Homo sapiens: one gene and its partners. The protein of the gene in region 1 purifies or fractionates together with the protein of each later gene. This does not show direct contact. Each region holds a gene or a part of one and is shown on either strand. Other genes may lie near its edges.

Region 1 (5,251 bases):
AAAATACTATATACAACATTTCTGCCTCAAATATAAGCACATGAACATGGAGCCTCTTGAATCTAAACTAACACAAATTAAATTTTTTAAATGTGTTTTAAAAACAAAAACCTGTTACTTTGTAATCCCTACAGAAAAATAGGATGGAGGATTATTTATAATTAGCATCCAGGACAGACGTGTTCAAGATTAACAGTATTTCCAGGTTGGGCGTGGCAGCTCACTCTTGAAACCCCAGCACTTTGGGAGGGCGAGGTGGGCAGATCGCTTGAGTTTAGGAGTTCAAGACCAACCTGGGTAACTTGGTGAAACCTCATCTCTCTAAAAAATACAAAAGTTAGCCAGGTGTGGTGGCACACACTTGTAGTCCCAGCTACTCATGAATTCAATTCAATGTTTTAAAGCATATTGTATGTGGAGTGACAGCTAAGGGGTACAGGTTTCTTTTTGGAGTTTTAAAATAGTCTTTAATTGGATTGTGATGTACATTAAGTTGTACACTTTGGTAAATTTTATGGTGTGCAAATTATATCCTTATAAAGCTGTTAAAAATTATTGTAATGTTTATGAAATTGTGACCTACGTGATTTATTCCCAGTCAAAATAATCAAGTTCACTGCAAGGCAGTGGGGGAGTGGGTAAAGAGTGGATTATTCAATAAAAGGAGTTGAAAATATAAAGTTATATCCCTACCTCACACTTTTTATCAGAAACATTCTGATGGAACAAATTTTTAAATGTGAAAAAATGAAACAAAAAAATTGAAAGAAAAGCACAAGGATTCTTTTCAGGACCTTAAAGTGGTGAAGGCCTTCTAAACCCAATAAATTGAACCTCAAAAAATATTTTCATGGTAAAAATATTTTAAAATACATGAGGAAAGACAAAGGACAAACTGGGGGAAATTATTTGCTGCTCATGTCATAAGCCATTTGTAGATTAAGATAGATAGATGATAGATAGATAGATAGATAGATAGATAGATAGATAGATAGATAGATAGATAGATTCATTGCACCATTGCTTATAACAGCAAAAGAAAGAAAATAGTCCAAATACCCATCATAGGAAACTGGTTAAATATTACAAACACATCTATATGATGGATTTTTTTAGCCACTAAATAAAAAAGGACAAGACAGCTCTACACATATAGGTGTCAATACAGAAGCTATAAATACTCATATGGAAACTAAGTGAAAAGGCAACGTACAGAACATTGTATATGGGATGCCAACATGGGGAAGGAGGACACTCAAGAAACTCGCACAGGTGATCAGCTCTAGGGAGGGAACCTGGGTATCCAGAAGACTCAAAGGGAGGTGAAGAAATTGACTTATCGTTGCATACTCTTTTTTCTTTTGAATTTTATGAAATGTACATGTATTCCCTATATAAAAAATTAATTTTAAAATATTTTTAAACACCCTAGACTATGTCAAATTAAAACAACTCAAGTTTTGTATTTGTATTTCTCAAACACTGCAAAAAGGACACATAGGCTCCAGGGAGATTTCTTCAAACCCCACCTCCCTCTTTCTTGTGTAATATTCTCATATTTCATAATTTCTCACCAGTTTTTTTCCCCCACAAAGCTCAAACCTCCCCACAAAATTCTCCTCTTTCTCCAGCCATGTTTTTTGGGTTAAGCCCTGCTGTAAGTGGTTGGACACATCAATGACTTCAACAAAGATCCCTGCCCTCATGTAGCTTACATTCTATCAGGAAAAATATAGATATAAAATAAAGATAGGAATTAGCTACTGAGTTAGAAGTGAAAAGTACAATAAAGAATAGAAAAAATGTAGAGCAGATAAAAGGAAGGTCATGGGCAGAAGAAGGCAGATTGCAGTGTTAAGCACGGTGATAAGGGTTGAACTTAGTGACAAGATGCCATTTGAGCAACGATGTGAAGAGGGAGATGAAGAAGTAGCTATATAGACATCTTGGTGAAGAGGGATTTAGACAATGCGAAGAGACACGTGAGACCCTAAGGCAGGGCACACCTAGTGTCTTTGAGGAGCACCAAGGAATCCAGTGTGACTGGAGCTGACAATGTGAGGAGAATAGAAGATGAAGTCAGGGAAATAAGGAGGGCCTTGTAGACCATCGCACCATGTAACATGAAGCTTTGGGCCCTTAGGTGCAATGAAGAACCAAACAGCGTGATCCCACTGTGATTTTTCCATTATAATGCACACCCCGTGGTCTTCTTGCATCAACTGAATCCCAGTACTTGACTGACCAGTCACCATCGTGCCACTAGCATGCATCAGGCACCACAACACATTGTTCCTCAATTCTTTTTGTTTTTTGAGACAGGGTCTGGCTCTGTTGCTCAGGCTGGAGTGCAGCAACACAATCTCTGCTCACTGCAACTTCCACCTCCAGGGTTCAAGTGATTCTCCTGCCTCAGCCTCTCGAGTAGCTGGAATTACAGGTGCACGCCACCATGCAGGGCTACTTTTTGTATTTTTAGTAGAGATGGGTTTCACCATATTGGCCAGGCTAATCTTGAACTCTTGACTTCAAGTGATCCTCCAACCTTGGCCACCCAAAGTGCTGGGAATACAGGCGTGAGCCATCGTGCCCAGCCTGTTCCTCAATTCTGATAAGGATTTTTACGGAATAATCACTTTGAGTGCCTTTTTTAAAGTTTTAATTGGGAATGCTTGAAGCATTTAGACTCCTATACAGGCAGTAGTATTCTTCCGCACTTGTCATAAAAGCAATCTATTTATTCAATGAATAAATCTGTTTACATTGTTTTAATTTATTCCTTGAGTTCCTTTTTGCCTGGCTATTGGCAATACTGAATATCGTTTCTTCCAATCACATCTTTAAAATTTCTGCTTCCTTTGCCCACCATCAACTAGACCCTTACCACATTCTTCTTCACAGACTGTTCCTGTGACTATTGGCATAGTTAGGCTTTCACACCTGCATCACCATGTCTGAGAAGCCACTGTCCAAATCAACTTCTCTGCAGTTGCTTTCAGGTCCCTCCTGAAAGCAACTCTGGCCTCAGCCAATAGCCTTGCACCCCATGTCTAGTTAAAAGCCTCATTATGACTATCTTCTATGAACCTTTATTTTTTTGGTAGAGATGGGGTCTTGCTATGTTGCCCAGGCTCCTCTCAAATTCCTGGGCTCAAGTAATCCTTCCACCTCAGCCTCCCAATACACTGGGATTACAGACGTGAGCCACCACACCCAGCCTTTTTTTTCTGGGGAGGGGGGTGACTTTATTGCTGTCCTGCTCCATCACCACAGCAAAATGGGCCCTGCACGCTCCAGGCCTGCATCATGTATCACCACAGCAAAAACATGACCTACTTGAACACGTTCCCTCCCAGGATATGTATTAAAATTCTTTAAAGAAAACAGAATAGATTAATAACTTAAGTGATTAGGCACCAACAGCAATTTGAAAAATTAAATGTCCATTTTAAATGGTAACAAGACAAGAACTTAAGATTGGGTTTACTCTAGCCCATCTTCTCTTCCTGTCAAATAGCAACAATTCTGTGGGAAATGATTCTAAATTTCAACACACAAGTAGCAGACAAATAAGTGAGAACACATATCACCAGAAATCACAGGACAGCCTGAATCTCCAGGCGGCCTCCTCGGCAGGTAGCCCATCGTGATTCCAGGCCCCAAAGAGCTTGGCAAGTCCCAGAAAGGTGGCCCCCTGAGGAAGGGCTTTAAAGCTCCTGAGATCAGACTTGCTTCCCCCACATTTTAAAGATGAAGTCCCAGACAGGGCCACTTTCTCATTCCTTCTCAAAGCCTCCTCTAATCAGCCTTTCACAACGGAGAGAGAACTGCTAATTTAATCAATGCATCTTGTTCTTACTGTGGCAGGGGGTGTGAACAGAATGTTCTTTCCATATATTTTTTTTTCATCTGAAGCTCCTTTGGAAGGCCTGTATTGAATGCACTGGGCTTGTCAGAAAGTGCCTTAATTCCAGTTGAGCAATAGAATCAATAATTTTGGATTTGTGCTGTATGACAAGGGCATACAAAAATGTCTACCAGACAGGGCATGGCAAAAATGTTCTCCTTGCTTTTTTTTTTTCAACTAGTAACACCAAGATTTAGTCAAAGTTACAGAGCCTGAGTTCGGATAAGTTGCTTTGGTTTTTCACTAATAAGATTTCTAGGAATCAGCTTACTTCAAAATCACATGTGCACACTGTGTTTTTCTTAGTTTGTCATTCCTACGCTCTGGCAATTTTCTGGGTCTAATTCCAAGATGTTGCAATTTCCCCATGGGTACCACAAAAGTGGTGATGTGTGCCTGGTCAATTTTCTCACATGGCTGTCAAAAAACAAAAGAAATTTCATCTGATTGCTTTCCCCACATTTTGTGATGATTTCCTTTGGGAGAGTATACACCAGGTCAAGCACTATATAGATTTCTTGTTAAAGCATGGGTCCAACCATCCAAACACAACTCATTTGCATGACCCCAGAACCACCTGTATATGTTCTTCCCTTTAAAAAACTGCTAATACTAAGGACCATTTAGCCTAAAAAATCAGGTATCTCCAATCTATACCACTCTCCATCTCACCTTCAGCCTATATGCCAAAGTGCCATACTAATAAATGACTCATCATTCTGAGCTTCTAGGCTTTATGGGGGAGTCCTATTAGATCAGAATTGAAGAGACCTGCTGCCTGCTTCACTTGGGGCACAGGCACCATGCGTGGCTTAATTTCACACAGCTCTTTAATTGAGCCCCAGTGCTAACAGCTTAATGGGACACCACGACATTATATCCTGCAGATTTTAAATTAAAGTTTGAGACCTCCCCTCAGGACATGCACAGTACCCCAATTAACACTAATTGGCATTATACATGATTACCAAGTGAAAACCATGGTTTTCCTGAAAATGCCTCCTCTTTTCTCCAGCTTTAAATAGTCCATAAATTCTAAGAAAACAATCATGGGTGCATGCAAAGATTAGCTAGAATGATGTCTAGCATGATGTTCATATTGGGAGAACTTTGGAAGCAACCTAAATATCTATAATGGGGGTTCTGTACATAAAAGATAGTAGAGACAAAAGCAATTATTTTTTAATGTCACACATAATTTTGACATGAGAAGGTGTTCATGATACATTGTCAAGTGAAAGAAGTTAAGGAAGTGTAGAAATGGCATGGTATCACTTTCTCCATAGTATAGACAAAAGAGACTGGAAGGATATATATACTAAAATGTAAATCTCAAGGTGGTAA
Region 2 (4,433 bases), on another chromosome or scaffold:
AAGTGTTTTCTAAAATAATGTCCTTTGGCTTTGGCTTGATGATCACTTGAAAATGGTTTATGCAAACATCTGGACCTGGGTTTTCTGGCAACCTTGACATTTTCTCTGTTCAGAATCTAAAGACATGAGTGACTCATTCAGTTACTGAGAAATCTTAGGCAAAGCTAATTCCAGTATTGTAATATCTATCCTTAGTCCTCAATGAGAGGCTGAAGTTCTGCTTTAAGCGTAAAGCATTTGATGAAAGGTCAAAGTGGCTGCTGGAGGGGAAGGCTGTTGGTACTCAACTGGGAGGTGGAACATTTTGCATTTAAGATTGCCTTTCTCAGATTTTCTGTACTGGATTTTCACTGCAGAAAGAAGGTATTCTTTAAGTGCTTGGACGGCCACTGAATCCTCAAGCAGATAGACATTCTAAGACCCCTCTGTAAGCTTAACCGTTATGTGTGTGACATTAGCCTTCGTATCTTACAGGGTAAAACTTAAGTGGCGAGGGGACTGAGGCACTGAGGCACGGAGAGATTAATTAGCTTGCCCAAGATCACACAGCTGCAAGCTGAGATTTGAACAGGTAGCCTTTGTAGCCCAGGCTCCCAGCCACTGAGTTGTCTTGCCTCTTAGGAATCTGTTGCCTACTGTTTAGGCTGCCATTTGCTTATGGAAAGATCTGATGTAAAATATAGAGCAGTGATCCTCAACCTTTTTGGTACCAGGGACTGGTTTCCTGGAAGACAGTTTTTCCACAGACAGGGGTGGGGATGGGGGGAGTCGGGGGTTTCGGGGGATGGTTTGGGGATGAAGCTGTTCCACCTCAGATCATCAGGCGTTAGATTCTCATAAGGACCATGCAGCCTAGATCCCTGGCATGCGCAGTTCACAATAAGGTTCGTGCTCCTATGAGAATCTAATGCTGCTGCTGATCTGACAGGAGGTGGAGCTCAGGCGGTAATGCTTGCTGACCTGCTATGCCACTCACCTCCTGCTGTGTGGCCTGGTTCCTAACAGGTCCATGGCCCTGGGGTTGGTTGCCCCCTGTATAGAGCATGTTGCTCTCTGGTACCTTAGCTTATGACTAAAGGAACTTTTATTTTGAAGCCATAATGAATATGGTCCTTTTTCTGAAACATTTACTGCTAGAGATTTATACCCTTCCCAGAATGTCTTTGAGCTCATTTCAGAGCTAAACATTATAATGAAAACCATTGTGTAGTCCAGCATCCAGAACTTGAGTTGATTCTTTTTTTTTTCACTGCTTCTAACTTATTCTTAATAATACCAAACATAGCAAAAGGAGGTTGCAATACATTTGTTTGGCAAGTTTGGGTATTGAATTCTTGAGTTTTAGTAGAGCCAAGCAGGTCGGTCACTATGTGTCATTTTTTGGTATCTAGTAGAACGGTTTATTTAGATAGGTATTGGGTTCCTCTAAATTGCCCATTTAGTTGGTTTCAGTTGATACGGAACCTTCACTAGGCTTTAGGTCTATCTTGTAAACAAGATATTTTTAAAGACCATCCTAGATTGAGAGCAATCTATTTGTTGTTTTTTTGGAGAGCGGGGGTTTGTTCTTTTTCTCTTCTCTCACAACTCTGGTGTTTTCCACCATTTGGCTGGACTCTGGGGCAAGAGTGGGCTGGCCGAGGGTGCTCCAGTTTCTCTCACCCCGGAACAGCTGCCTGCCTCTAAGATATTCTTTGGAAGTCTATCCTGAAGCACTCCGAAGCCTTGCTTCTGCTTCTGGGAGGAATTCCTTGGAGGACTAGAGGCAACAGGGGGCCTAATCTGTTGAAACTTGTGTGTATATTTCAGGGTTAATAAATCTCAGCTAAGAAAATTAATAAAAATTCCACTGTGAATGAGAGGTTGGTCAGAGACTAATGTCTTGAAAATGCTTTATGATAACTTGGAAGAATTTGAGCAGATGGAAAGGAGAAACTTTGTTAAGGTCTCCCTGAAATTAGTCATCACTTCTTACAAGCAGATTTCACAAGGTGCTTACTATCTATGGTGTGTATAATAGGGTTGTCTTATTAATTAGTCTGATGTTTGGATCTGGAGAAGTAAATTAATGAGTCAGGTTTTGTATAACAAATGATCACTTTTTAAGTAATTAGTGTAGCATATGACCGTAGAGATTAATATTAACTCTTAAAATATGGAAATTGAGACTCCGATGGAAAATGTGAAAGTGAAGTTAAAACTTTATCTTTTTGCCTATGTAACATTTATCAAGTGAGAAAGTGAGAATGCCTTTAAATAAGCATTTGATTGAAAGCCATTAGAAGGTGAGAACTTGTATACCTTTTTTTTTTTTTCTTTGGGATAGGGTTTTGCTCTGTCATCCAGGCTGGAGTGCAGTGATGGAATCACAGCTTACTGCAGTGGCCTTGAATTCTTGGGCCCAAGCCATTCTCCCACCTCAGCCTTCTGAGTAGCTGGGACTACAGGTGTGTATGCCACTGTGCCCAGCCAGTTTTAAAATTTTTATTTTGTGGAGACGGGGTCTTACTATGTTGACCAACTGGTTTCAAATTCTTGGCCTTAAGCTATTCTCCTGCCTCAGCCTTCCAAAGTGCTGGGATTATAGGTGTGATTCACTGCTCCCAGTTGCCTTTTGTGTTTTTTTTTTTTAACTTACTGTAATACACATACAGAAATGTGCTTACATACTTTACATCAGTAGTACTTAAGAGTCCAGCATAGTAGATGTTATTAATGAAAGTTGACTCATGGCAATACATATAACTAGGACTTTGATTCCCCAGTTTTTTTCTTGCTTTCATAAATCTGTAAATCTTACTTAAGAATGACATATAAGGAAAATATGATCTCCTTCCCCTTCCTTGAGTGCAGTCTATTTATAAACAATAGCACTTGGTGCTGGGGTTTGTTCACGTTTGTATGAGGGAGATTGTCTTATTTTCTGGGATATAATGCGGAGATCTGTGCTTTTTGGGAAGTGATGGAACGTTGATAGTGCATCCAGCATTTAGGAATGCAAGAACAAACATTAGAGCCTTTTGAGGATGGTGTCCTCTAACTCCTCTTCAGTCCAACAGCCCTGTGGGTCTCTTCCTGATCAGCATTTTTCACTAAGACCCAAACTTATTTCCTGTAAACCAACTGGGCCAGATACTCATGACTGTCTGTGGTCTGAAGATAGTAGTTTATGTTTTGTTTTTTGTTTTTTTTAAATTGAATTGGGTGTGTTGTTCCCAGATGAACACTGTTATCAGGGCCTAAACAAATATTTTTGTCAGGGAGATGTCACAATTGTATTATTGGAAGGGGATTTTCTCTCTTAGCTTTTAATTTGCATTAAGAGGTGTCTGGGCTGTGGGCAAAATAGTGGCTAAAATGACCACTTTTATTTGTTTTTGAGTCAGCTATTGCTTTTTGTGATAACTGAAAACTTTAGTCTTTTTTGAAGGACTGAAGTGTTGAGAGTTTCCTGGAATGAGTGGTTCACTAGCTGTTGCTGATCACCTGGTTTATTCTTAGCTTTTTTTGCATTCAGGAGTCTTAGTTTTCCCTTGTTCTCCAACTTCTGTAATCTTTAAGAAAATGAAAGGATATTTAGCAGCTCTGATGACCTGTATTTGCTGGATTGTAAAGGCCTTATTGCATTTTTTATCCCTTCTGTCTTGGTAAAAGTTCCTGATAGCAGCAGCTTTTATAAAAGTTTGAGCAGAACTAAGGCAAGGAGGAAGAACTCTAAAATAGTGATTTTTGCTTCTCAGTTGTTATTAGTAGGTTAATCAGGAGAGGAAGTAGGACATTTTAACTAAAATGGGTTTCTGTTTCAGTTATCAAGCCAAGCTGCTATTTTTAAGTTTGAAACCATTTTTAAATTCAGACAGGTTTGAGGATTAATTGTACTGAAATGGAGCTCACATCTAGTGCTTTAGTGAGTATAGCTAAATGTGCCTATAATAGGGAGGAAGTAAATCATTTGGTTTGATGAACTCTGTCACTTGAGGTCATATCATAGCTTTTCTGAAAGAGTGCCCTGTTTAAGGTAATTATATTTTATGCAGACAGGTGGATAGTAGGTATCTAGTATATATCTTTTTTTTTTTTGAGACGGAGTCTCACTATGTTGGCAGACTGGAGTGCAGTGGTGCAATCTCAGCTCACTGCAATCTCCACCTCCCGGGTTCAAGCGATTCTCCTGCCTCAGCCTCCCGAGTAGCTGGGATTACAGGCACAAGCCACCATGCCCAGCTAATTTTTGTATTTTTAGTAGAGACGGGGTTTCACCATGTTGGCCAGGATGGTCTCGATCTCCTGATCTCGTGATCTGCCCGCCTTGACCTCCCAACATGTTGGGATTACAGGCGTGAGCCTCTGCGCCTGGTTGGTATCTCTTAAATATCTTAATGTTAAATTTCTAAATCTAACATACTGTTTTCTAAAGAAGAGAAAGTACTTTA
Region 3 (4,221 bases), on another chromosome or scaffold:
TTTCTATTTAAAATTGGAGCCTAAAGAGTTTTTTTTTTTTTTTTTTTTTTTTAAATCCCTGTTGGGTTAAGGGTAAAGGAGGTTAAGGAAGCCTATTTCAAATAATGGTAACAGTTTCTGAGAAGTTAAAAAACGCCACTAGGGAGTTGCTAGGGAGCCTTGGCCTGTTTGGGGCATTGAAACAAATGTGGGTGCTTTTAGGGATTATCTCCGTCATCTGTTAAATGAGAAATGGGTTGGACTGGTGATTGATAGTTGAAATCTGTCAACTACTTGTATCAGGTTAGACTACCTGATACACAAAGAAGGGTTGGCCAAGGCGAATTTCTTTGCAATTGATTAATACTTTTTTAAAAAATGAAGTACCAAAGCTGGTATACTATGAGACTTACCTGTAGTCCCTTGAAGTATGGTAGACTTTTTAGTCAATCTACAACCATCTACTCCCCTTTTAAGAAAATCTTCTAAACCCAAGGCATTTTCTTCCAAAAAGATGTTGACTGGTAGTATCTTGAATACTTTAAAAAAACAGACACACCAAAAAACTCCCAAGAAATGGCCTTTTACAAAATGTCAAAGGTTCTTCATACCAACTGCTGGTCATTGGCTGGGGTTTTGAACACTGTATGACAATACTTAAACTACAAAATTTTTTTTACAAATACAGTTTCATCAAAACTTGGGACATACATCAACTTCATTTCTTTTCAGTACCTTAAAAAAAAAACATCAGTTCTGGGACATAACAAAGAAATACTAGGAGAAATGGTATCTGGACAGGAACAGAAATGTCCACAACTGCGAGGGATTTTCTTTTACACTGGCCACAGAGCGTTTATTGACACCACCACTCCTGAAAATTGGGATTTCTTATTAGGTTCCCCTAAAAGTTCCCATGTTGATTACATGTAAATAGTCACATATATACAATGAAGGCAGTTTCTTCAGAGGCAACCAGGGTTTATAGTGCTAGGTAAATGTCATCTCTTTTGTGCTACTGACTCATTGTCAAACGTCTCTGCACTGTTTTCAGCCTCTCCACGTTGCCTCTGTCCTGCTTCTTAGTTCCTTCTTTGTGACAAACCAAAAGAATAAGAGGATTTAGAACAGGACTGCTTTTCCCCTATGATTTAAAAATTCCAATGACTTTCGCCCTTGGGAGAAATTTCCAAGGAAATCTCTCTCGCTCGCTCTCTCCGTTTTCCTTTGTGAGCTTCTGGGGGAGGGTTAGTGGTGACTTTTTGATACGAAAAAATGCATTTTGTGCAGCTGGTGAGGTATAATCCAAAGCAAAAGCAGGGGCAAAAATGGACTTCCTGAAGTTATCTCTGCTCCTGCTGGTTATCCTCCAGAATCTGTCATGTTGACTGAGAGTGCGTGCTTGCTTTCTCAGGCCTCCTGGCCAATACCACAGGTCTGCTGGAAATCACCCACATGGTTTTTCATTGCCTGTGCAGTCAGGTGATGCCTCTATGTTTTTGGAGGTCCACCTCTGTTGTTTCTTAACCTTCCCAGCCTTCCCACAGTTGTCCCCTAAAGAACAAAACAAACTCATCTTAGCACTTAGCTATCATGGTCTTTATCATGACTTCCTAATCGGTCCTATAGCTGAGGAAGCTTTGCTTCAAGGCTGCTGAGAATGAATATTTCTAGGTTACTTAGAACGGGATTGCCACCACCTAGTCACCTCAATTTTTTGTTTACTTATACACCCAATGCCTGGCAAGGATGGCATTTAAGGATCTGGACAGAATAGTGGCTAAGGAGATTGTGATATGTAAAGATTCTGTACCTTAATTCTAGAAGCACCGAAGAAAGGCTTAGGTGACCTGTTACTAATGTCCTATTAAAGCCACACAGGTTTATATGCATATAAAGGAAGAAATGAGTAGACCAGAGGTTGCAAGTGGCAGTTCACCAAGGGCGATAATTTGCCCACATGGTTAACTTAATGTCAAATTAGATGATAATGATAAAGAATTCTCACACATACTTGCATTTTTGGATTTGGTAGACGAATGAGAAAATCTGGCGAACCTCAGCCCATTCCTGCAGGGAGCAAACTGGCCTGCTCCCTTTAGAATAGAGGTGAACTTTACAGGTTGCCAGTCTCTTAGTCCCTGTCAGCCTCCAATGGCACTGGAGTGAGAGTTTGTAGCATGGGCTTTTTGGAAACCATTTAATGAGGCCATCCTACTACTGATGTTGTATATCAGTTAGCACTTTTGTAGCCACAGCCTTCAAGATGCCTAGCAATTTGTAATATTTAAATGCTTCTCAACCTCTAAGTAATAGCTCAAGTTTACCAAGCACAGATTATAGCGAGAACAGCAGTGTACTGGACAAGGCATTAATCTAAAACATGAAATGGATTCAAGTGTTTTCTTAGGGAAAGATGTGCATTAGTACTTCCCCCCCACCCTCATCATGAGAACAAACAAAGGGTGGTATGTAAGAAATGGCATGCAAATAGAATAGCATTGGCAAAATGAAGCGGTCAGAACCAGATTTCTATTTGTAAGCTGGTTCCTCAACTCACAGTGATTTGGAAGAAGGTCTCTTCATTTCTGGCCACTTTCGACGCTGAAACTGCCTAAGTTTTCAAGTGTCAAAGGAGAATGAATGTTAACCATCACCAAGAAAGAAAAAGTCCCCAAAGAACTATACAAAGAAGGTCTCCTAGGTGACACCTATCTTTGGTGGGTGATCCTGGTCTCGGGCAGACCAGAGGGAAGGGCAGTTTCTCAAGATAACAGGTGCAGACTCACAGAGATGAGACTGAAGGATGGGCCAAGATAGGAGAACTTTGTTTAGGCTTTAATAATAAAACGAAATACCTGTATTGCTCATAGCTTCCTCCATCTTTAAGTCCTAAATGAAGGAGAAATGAAAAACAAAACAGGAGCAGATAGTTTAGGCAAAACAACCCCAACACACCAGAAAACCATCTTATGCTTTTTTGTCACAATCCCATGATGCTGATAGTGTTCCCTACTCAGAGTAGACTGAATTATGAGGGGTAGACTGAATTATGAGGGGAACCTGCCCTAAGTCTCCTAGATAGCCTTGTAGATTGCCTAAAATCCAGTGTCACCATGATCAGTTTCAGGACCCTGATGGCTTCATTCAGCGCTGACCTTAGTTATGGTGAGGGAGGTAGATGCAGGCATGAACATCTGTGCTCCAGAGGACAGAAAGCCAAGAGCCCTGACCAAGTGCAGGAGGGAGTTCCCCTTTGGGCTCTGGGGAAGTTTTCCCGAGGATGTGGCAGGATCAAGTGCGTGGGCTCCGGGGTCAGCCCACCTTGTTCACCTTACTCCTCCATAAAATGAGGATAAGATTCACCTCAAAGCTTATCAGCTAACACATGTAAAATGCTCAGCACAGAGCCTGGCACACAGTGACTAATATGTCATTGCACTTTGATCACAAGAGTAGCAGCACTTGAGTGGCAGAGATTAGGAAGCTACTAGTGAAAATTCTGATCATATCAGGCTCCTGACCAGAAGTATTAGTGCAACATCTTGTGTAAACACATTAGCTCTTCCCTCTTCATAACTAGAGCCGACGGTAGCGTCTGAATTCCTCCTAAGCTGTGTAGCCATTTTCCTGACATGAACTCTAGGCATCCTCCTAGACACAGTCCCTTCCCCAAGGGACCTTAAATACCAAAGGTTTTTTTTAGGCCACTCTCTCTCACTAGTAAGTGAACTTCATTTTTCTTTTAGCTTTGTTTTCTTTTTTTAATATATTTTTTTTATTTTTAGAGATGGGGCGACAGCTCTGTCTCCCAGGCTGGAGTGCAGTGGTGCTATCATAGCTCACTGTAACCTTGAACTCCTGGGCTCAAGTCTCCTCCCACCTCAGCCTTCCAAAGCCCTGGAATCATAGGCATGAGCAACCATGCCTGTTTAGCTTTTTTCATCTTAAAATATCTATCTGGTTGGCATTCTAAACTTAAAACTGCAGATTTTGTCCTGTCCCAAACAAAACTCAGGATTTACCTGGGACTCCTAATCCCGCACCTCCCATCACCATGTTGTCTGGGGGCTTCACCACCTGAATCTGAAATCCATCATCTTTACTGCTCCCACCTCTAGTCCAAGCCACCACCATTTCTCCCTGGATAACTGGGCCATCTTCGCTGTTTTCTCCCATAAAGTCCCATTCTCCACCTAGCAAATGTCGGTGCCCAGGTTAAAACCCTCCATTGGCTTCCTG
Region 4 (4,433 bases), about 110 Mb from region 1:
CGCCCCCTTCAAACAAGTAAAATCCTCCCTGGGTTCGGAGAAGTAGAGATAAAACATCCCTCCCAAGGGAGCGGTTGCAGGGGATTTGATGGGATTGAATTGTTTTATTATCTTGAAAGAAGTGATGGATGGATCCGAGAGGGAATATGTATATAAAGCAGAGTGTAGTGAGGGCGATCGGTATGATTATTCATTATTGTTTGTTAAGAGTGATAATAAGGCCGCAACCTTCGCTCAGACTGTGTTTATACTGGGGTTTGAGTTTATGTCAGTCTCTTATTACAGTGGTTTCAGAAAGTGAAAACACCAAAACCGTATTAATTCTTCAGTCATTCTGCATATGGGATTAATCAAATGTCAAAAAAGATACTGTCGTTTTACCACAGTTTTAATCTATGATCTTTTAGAAGGTTGCACTCTTATAAAATGTCATTTGCCTCCATCTGTCTTCTTAAAGTTTAAAAAACTTGGCAACATAATTAATTATGGTCCCAATTCCCATTTTCAATCTAAACCTATATTCAGGATTATATTAAAATACCCCATCATTTATTCCTCAGAAGTGACTCTTATGAGTTTAAACTCTTGGAGGGGAGAGAGGGACAACTGGGAATGAGGGGCCTAGGAGTTAGATAAATTAGTACTATTTCAGATTTCTCTAAAAATTCCTTTACTTCTTCCTTTAGAGAAAGAAATTACAAGGTCCTTCTCTGCACAGTTCATCACTTCAGTGAATGCCCTTAATCTTTACCACACACTTGAAACATAACAGCTTGCAGCCTTGTCTGCATTATTGCTTTCATTTTTGTGTCAGGACATTTTATTCATTAAACCTGTATGTCAAAGACTTAGGCTTAGTGTGGCAGTAACACTCTGTTTTAATTAGTAACTATCATAAAAAAGAAGCTAGAACTCTGTAATAGGCCTAAATTGCTATGAATTATGTTTGGTTTAAATTACGCATTTATTTCAGCAGAAATGAAACCATGAATATAAAACATCTTTTAATCACTTGCAGATACAGCTTTTATCTCTTAGGATGTAACAAAATATGTAATTGAAAAATATCCTTCTAAGGACAAGAGAAGCCCCCACCCTCAGCTTATTTGTCCTGGGTCTGTTTAACATTCATATGGTGAAGTATGAATGTTAAAGAGTAAAGACTATTGTCACAACATTGCCAATACCAGGTCGATGGAATGCTACCTTGGAAATAGCCACAGTAGGTCAGTCGTCAGCTTAATGTAGAGACTTTTCTAGTTGGCTGCGTGAACCTTGTTGTTTCAGATTTTAGTTTTCTCACTTGGATTTATCGACCAGACTCTGTTGTGGAAGGGAGAAAAATGTATTTTAAAACTCTAACAAATTATTTGACATGAAGGGGAGAAAAGTAGAAATAAAGTGTATCTCTTCTCTTCCTATATTTATTTCTATAGCAATTCTCTTCAGCCTATCTAGAGGTCAGAATTTTTACTTTAAAACTGAATGTGTTTTTGTTGTCGTCGTTAGGACTTATCATTTTGGTATGATGGATGAGCAGATATTGGAAATGGAATAATGATGACTGAATCAACCGAGAGCATAGGAACAGAGTGTGAATTACACATCATATGTGCTAATTAAGATTATTTTAATCTCCTTTCCTTAGTTTCTCCATGATAAGGTGGTCGATAGTGACCAAGTAGTGCTCTCTCTCTCTCTCTCTGTCTCACTTTTTTGCTACCTGCCTTCTTGTCAGGTCTTGCTTTGGGGACCTATACACCTATAGTAGCAGCTGAACCTTGCCAGTCAGTGGCCATCAGCTAATCACTTGGAAGAAAATATGTCTCATAGTCATCTGTATTGGGTCAAAGGCAGGGATACCCAATATAACCAACAAAATAGTTCAACTAATTCATTTGACCCTGAAATAATATCTAGAACCTCTAAATGTTTATTTTAGAATGATTATTCTAAAGAACACAATTTATTCTTCCCCTGTGGGCTCATAATCATTTAATAGAAGCCACAGCGTGGTTGATAGTAAATAGTAAACCCCACAAAATCTTTGCTTTGAAAGCTGATTTTAAAATCAAATCCTCCAGGATTTAAATACTCTATTTTAAAATACTTTGCATTTTATTCCCTGAAGTTAGGATAAATTCTGCTGTATTTTTCCACTGTATTACAAATGTAACATTACGTGACACTCAGCATGCATGCAGTCAAGCTTCCATGTTAATTTCCTCCTAGAAAAAAAAAGTAAATACTTTGCTGCTGTTGTTAAAAAATAATCATGTAGTATGAGACAGAAAAACAAGAATGCTAATACTTTATTGTATCACATGGTGGTATGTTGACCATAAACTCAGTTATATTTTTGTTGAAAATCACACCATTTCAGTGTAAGTCTGTTTGCTTGGCTGTGTGTATTTCACGTATTTCTTGCCTCTTCTGAGATGACACCTGGCATTTGCTGTACCAGTGCCTAAGCCAGTGCCAAAAGCAGGTGTATCCTTGGCTGCTTCCTTCCTAAACACACAACCCAAAGAAGCAATATCCACACCTTTCCCCTTCCTTCTGGTACTTTACTAAAAACTGCAAACCAACAAACACATGAATTTTAGTCTTTTGAAATATTTGGAAAACATGTAATATATAATGTTAATTCCCCCAATAAAAAAAGTTGTGGCTTGTTTTGATTTTAAAAATTAAGGGTAACAAATTTGATCAATGTGGTATAAAAGCAAACTAGCAAAATGGTCTGTAGATTTTTCACTTTGGGATAAAGAGACAAATTTGGCCACAGAACAGCTGGGTATTTGGCCCTATTACAATGCCAATTTTTTTCAAGGAACTCATTGAGTTAACTTTGATTTAAACTTCACTTTAAAGTCCACAAACCTCAAGTTTATGAGAAAAGTATAGAAACTTTCAAGATATATGTCATCATTCTTTCAATAACTTCCATATCCTTTGGAAACTGATTTATTTTAGTAAGTTAGTTAATAGGTCTTGGTTTTCGCTTGTTAATTTTTTCTGTAACAAATTTGAACATGACACATTTAATATTTTATATATTTCTCTGAAGTATTTATTTTTAGCTTCACTTATGAAAACTCTAAAATGAATCTTTTCTTTAAAAAAATGTGGCTAGAGGTAGTAGTATAAATGTATAATTTATCAAATGTCTCTTTTAATTCTTCTTTTAAAATAATTTGCCGTCTTTTTTATAGTTAAAAGAAAAACTTTTTTAGGAATAATGGTAAGGTTATATAAAGTTTGGAGAGTACTCAATAAAAATATGATTACGCGTGATTGGGAATCAACTCATTTGAGTGGAACTCTTAGACACTGCCTCCACAGCGTGGAGACTTTTAAATATAAAAACCAAATTATAAAAACAATTCACAACATGCATGCACGTTTGCTTTCTAATTGGAATGATTTCAGCTAATATCACAAATAGTGGTGACCAGCTGAAGTAAATGGAGACTGTACAAGTTTCTGTCAGTGTTTCTTCTCTCTAAGCGGAAATCAAGGTAAACACCCTCTTCTTCCAGCTGTGTGCTCTGAGAACATATATTCCACAATCTAAAAACATAGCCAAAAATATGGACTATATTCAAATATGTGTTTTATCAACAACTGAAAATCACCATATCTTGTCTTCTGAGGCAATGCTGTTATATACACAGATGTAGATAGAATATGAGCCTGAAATTTAACATTTTCTAAAATAAGCAGTAAAATCTGAACTCATAATTAGACCTCTAAAATATGACATCTTGTTTTTGAAATCACCATGACTGTTTTTAAAATTTATAATGTAGGAACTATGAACAAATTGGTATATACAAGACAGACAATGCCCTATCCTGGCAGTTGGCAAACAAACTGTTGGCAGACAGTTAGGGGTAGTGTTGTGGTACTTACTTGAAAATACTATATTTAAGAGAGAAAAACCAGTATAATAGGGCCTGATTGATTTATTTAGGATTACTTTGTCCAATTTAGCTGTTACAAGTGTATGGTGACTTCTGGAGTGTAGATGGTTATAATTTATATATTAGAAATATATACTGCTGGATCCTGTAATTGAAGAGAGATTTGTTGCCAACAGTGGGACAGATCAGAAACACCAGCGCTAGCTAAGACACGTAGTAAACTGGGGAAAAACATCAGTCGTTTAACTCTGTGCCTCCCTGAGTCTCTGATATTGTTAGTTCTTCGGGTGCTATGAAAATATGTTACTTTTTATGGAAAAAGAAAACTGCCTCTTAAATGAGAGATAAACATTTAACACTCTAATGATAGCAATAGCAGGATTCACCATACTAATAGAACTAACAGATGGGTTACATGAGAGATGGCCTTAGAGGTACCAGGGAAGCCACCCTGCTCCCAGGGCCTCTCAGGGTACCAAAACACTACCTGAAAAAATATGCTTTTTT

What was found. The genes of interacting proteins can lie anywhere in the genome.
Region 2: the proteins of C1QTNF7 (region 1) and MAN2A1 purify together in Homo sapiens (affinity purification with mass spectrometry; one large-scale study listed by BioGRID and IntAct). This does not show direct contact.
Region 3: the proteins of C1QTNF7 (region 1) and SULF2 purify together in Homo sapiens (affinity purification with mass spectrometry; one large-scale study listed by BioGRID and IntAct). This does not show direct contact.
Region 4: the proteins of C1QTNF7 (region 1) and NDNF purify together in Homo sapiens (affinity purification with mass spectrometry; one large-scale study listed by BioGRID and IntAct). This does not show direct contact.

Annotation. Positions count from the first base shown.
Region 1 is NC_000004.12:15,430,099-15,435,349, forward strand, and holds part of C1QTNF7 (complement C1q tumor necrosis factor-related protein 7 isoform b precursor), read left to right. Parts: intron 1-5,251.
Region 2 is NC_000005.10:109,692,040-109,696,472, forward strand, and holds part of MAN2A1 (alpha-mannosidase 2), read left to right. Parts: intron 1-4,433. UniProt on the Homo sapiens protein: Catalyzes the first committed step in the biosynthesis of complex N-glycans. It controls conversion of high mannose to complex N-glycans; the final hydrolytic step in the N-glycan maturation pathway.
Region 3 is NC_000020.11:47,656,860-47,661,080, forward strand, and holds the end of SULF2 (extracellular sulfatase Sulf-2 isoform a precursor), read right to left. Parts: intron 2,872-4,221; coding exon 2,838-2,871; intron 2,594-2,837; coding exon 2,540-2,593; intron 1,534-2,539; coding exon 1,503-1,533; 3' UTR 547-1,502; downstream 1-546. UniProt on the Homo sapiens protein: Exhibits arylsulfatase activity and highly specific endoglucosamine-6-sulfatase activity. It can remove sulfate from the C-6 position of glucosamine within specific subregions of intact heparin.
Region 4 is NC_000004.12:121,065,990-121,070,422, reverse strand, and holds part of NDNF (protein NDNF precursor), read left to right. Parts: intron 1-4,433. UniProt on the Homo sapiens protein: Secretory protein that plays a role in various cellular processes. Acts as a chemorepellent acting on gonadotropin-releasing hormone (GnRH) expressing neurons regulating their migration to the hypothalamus.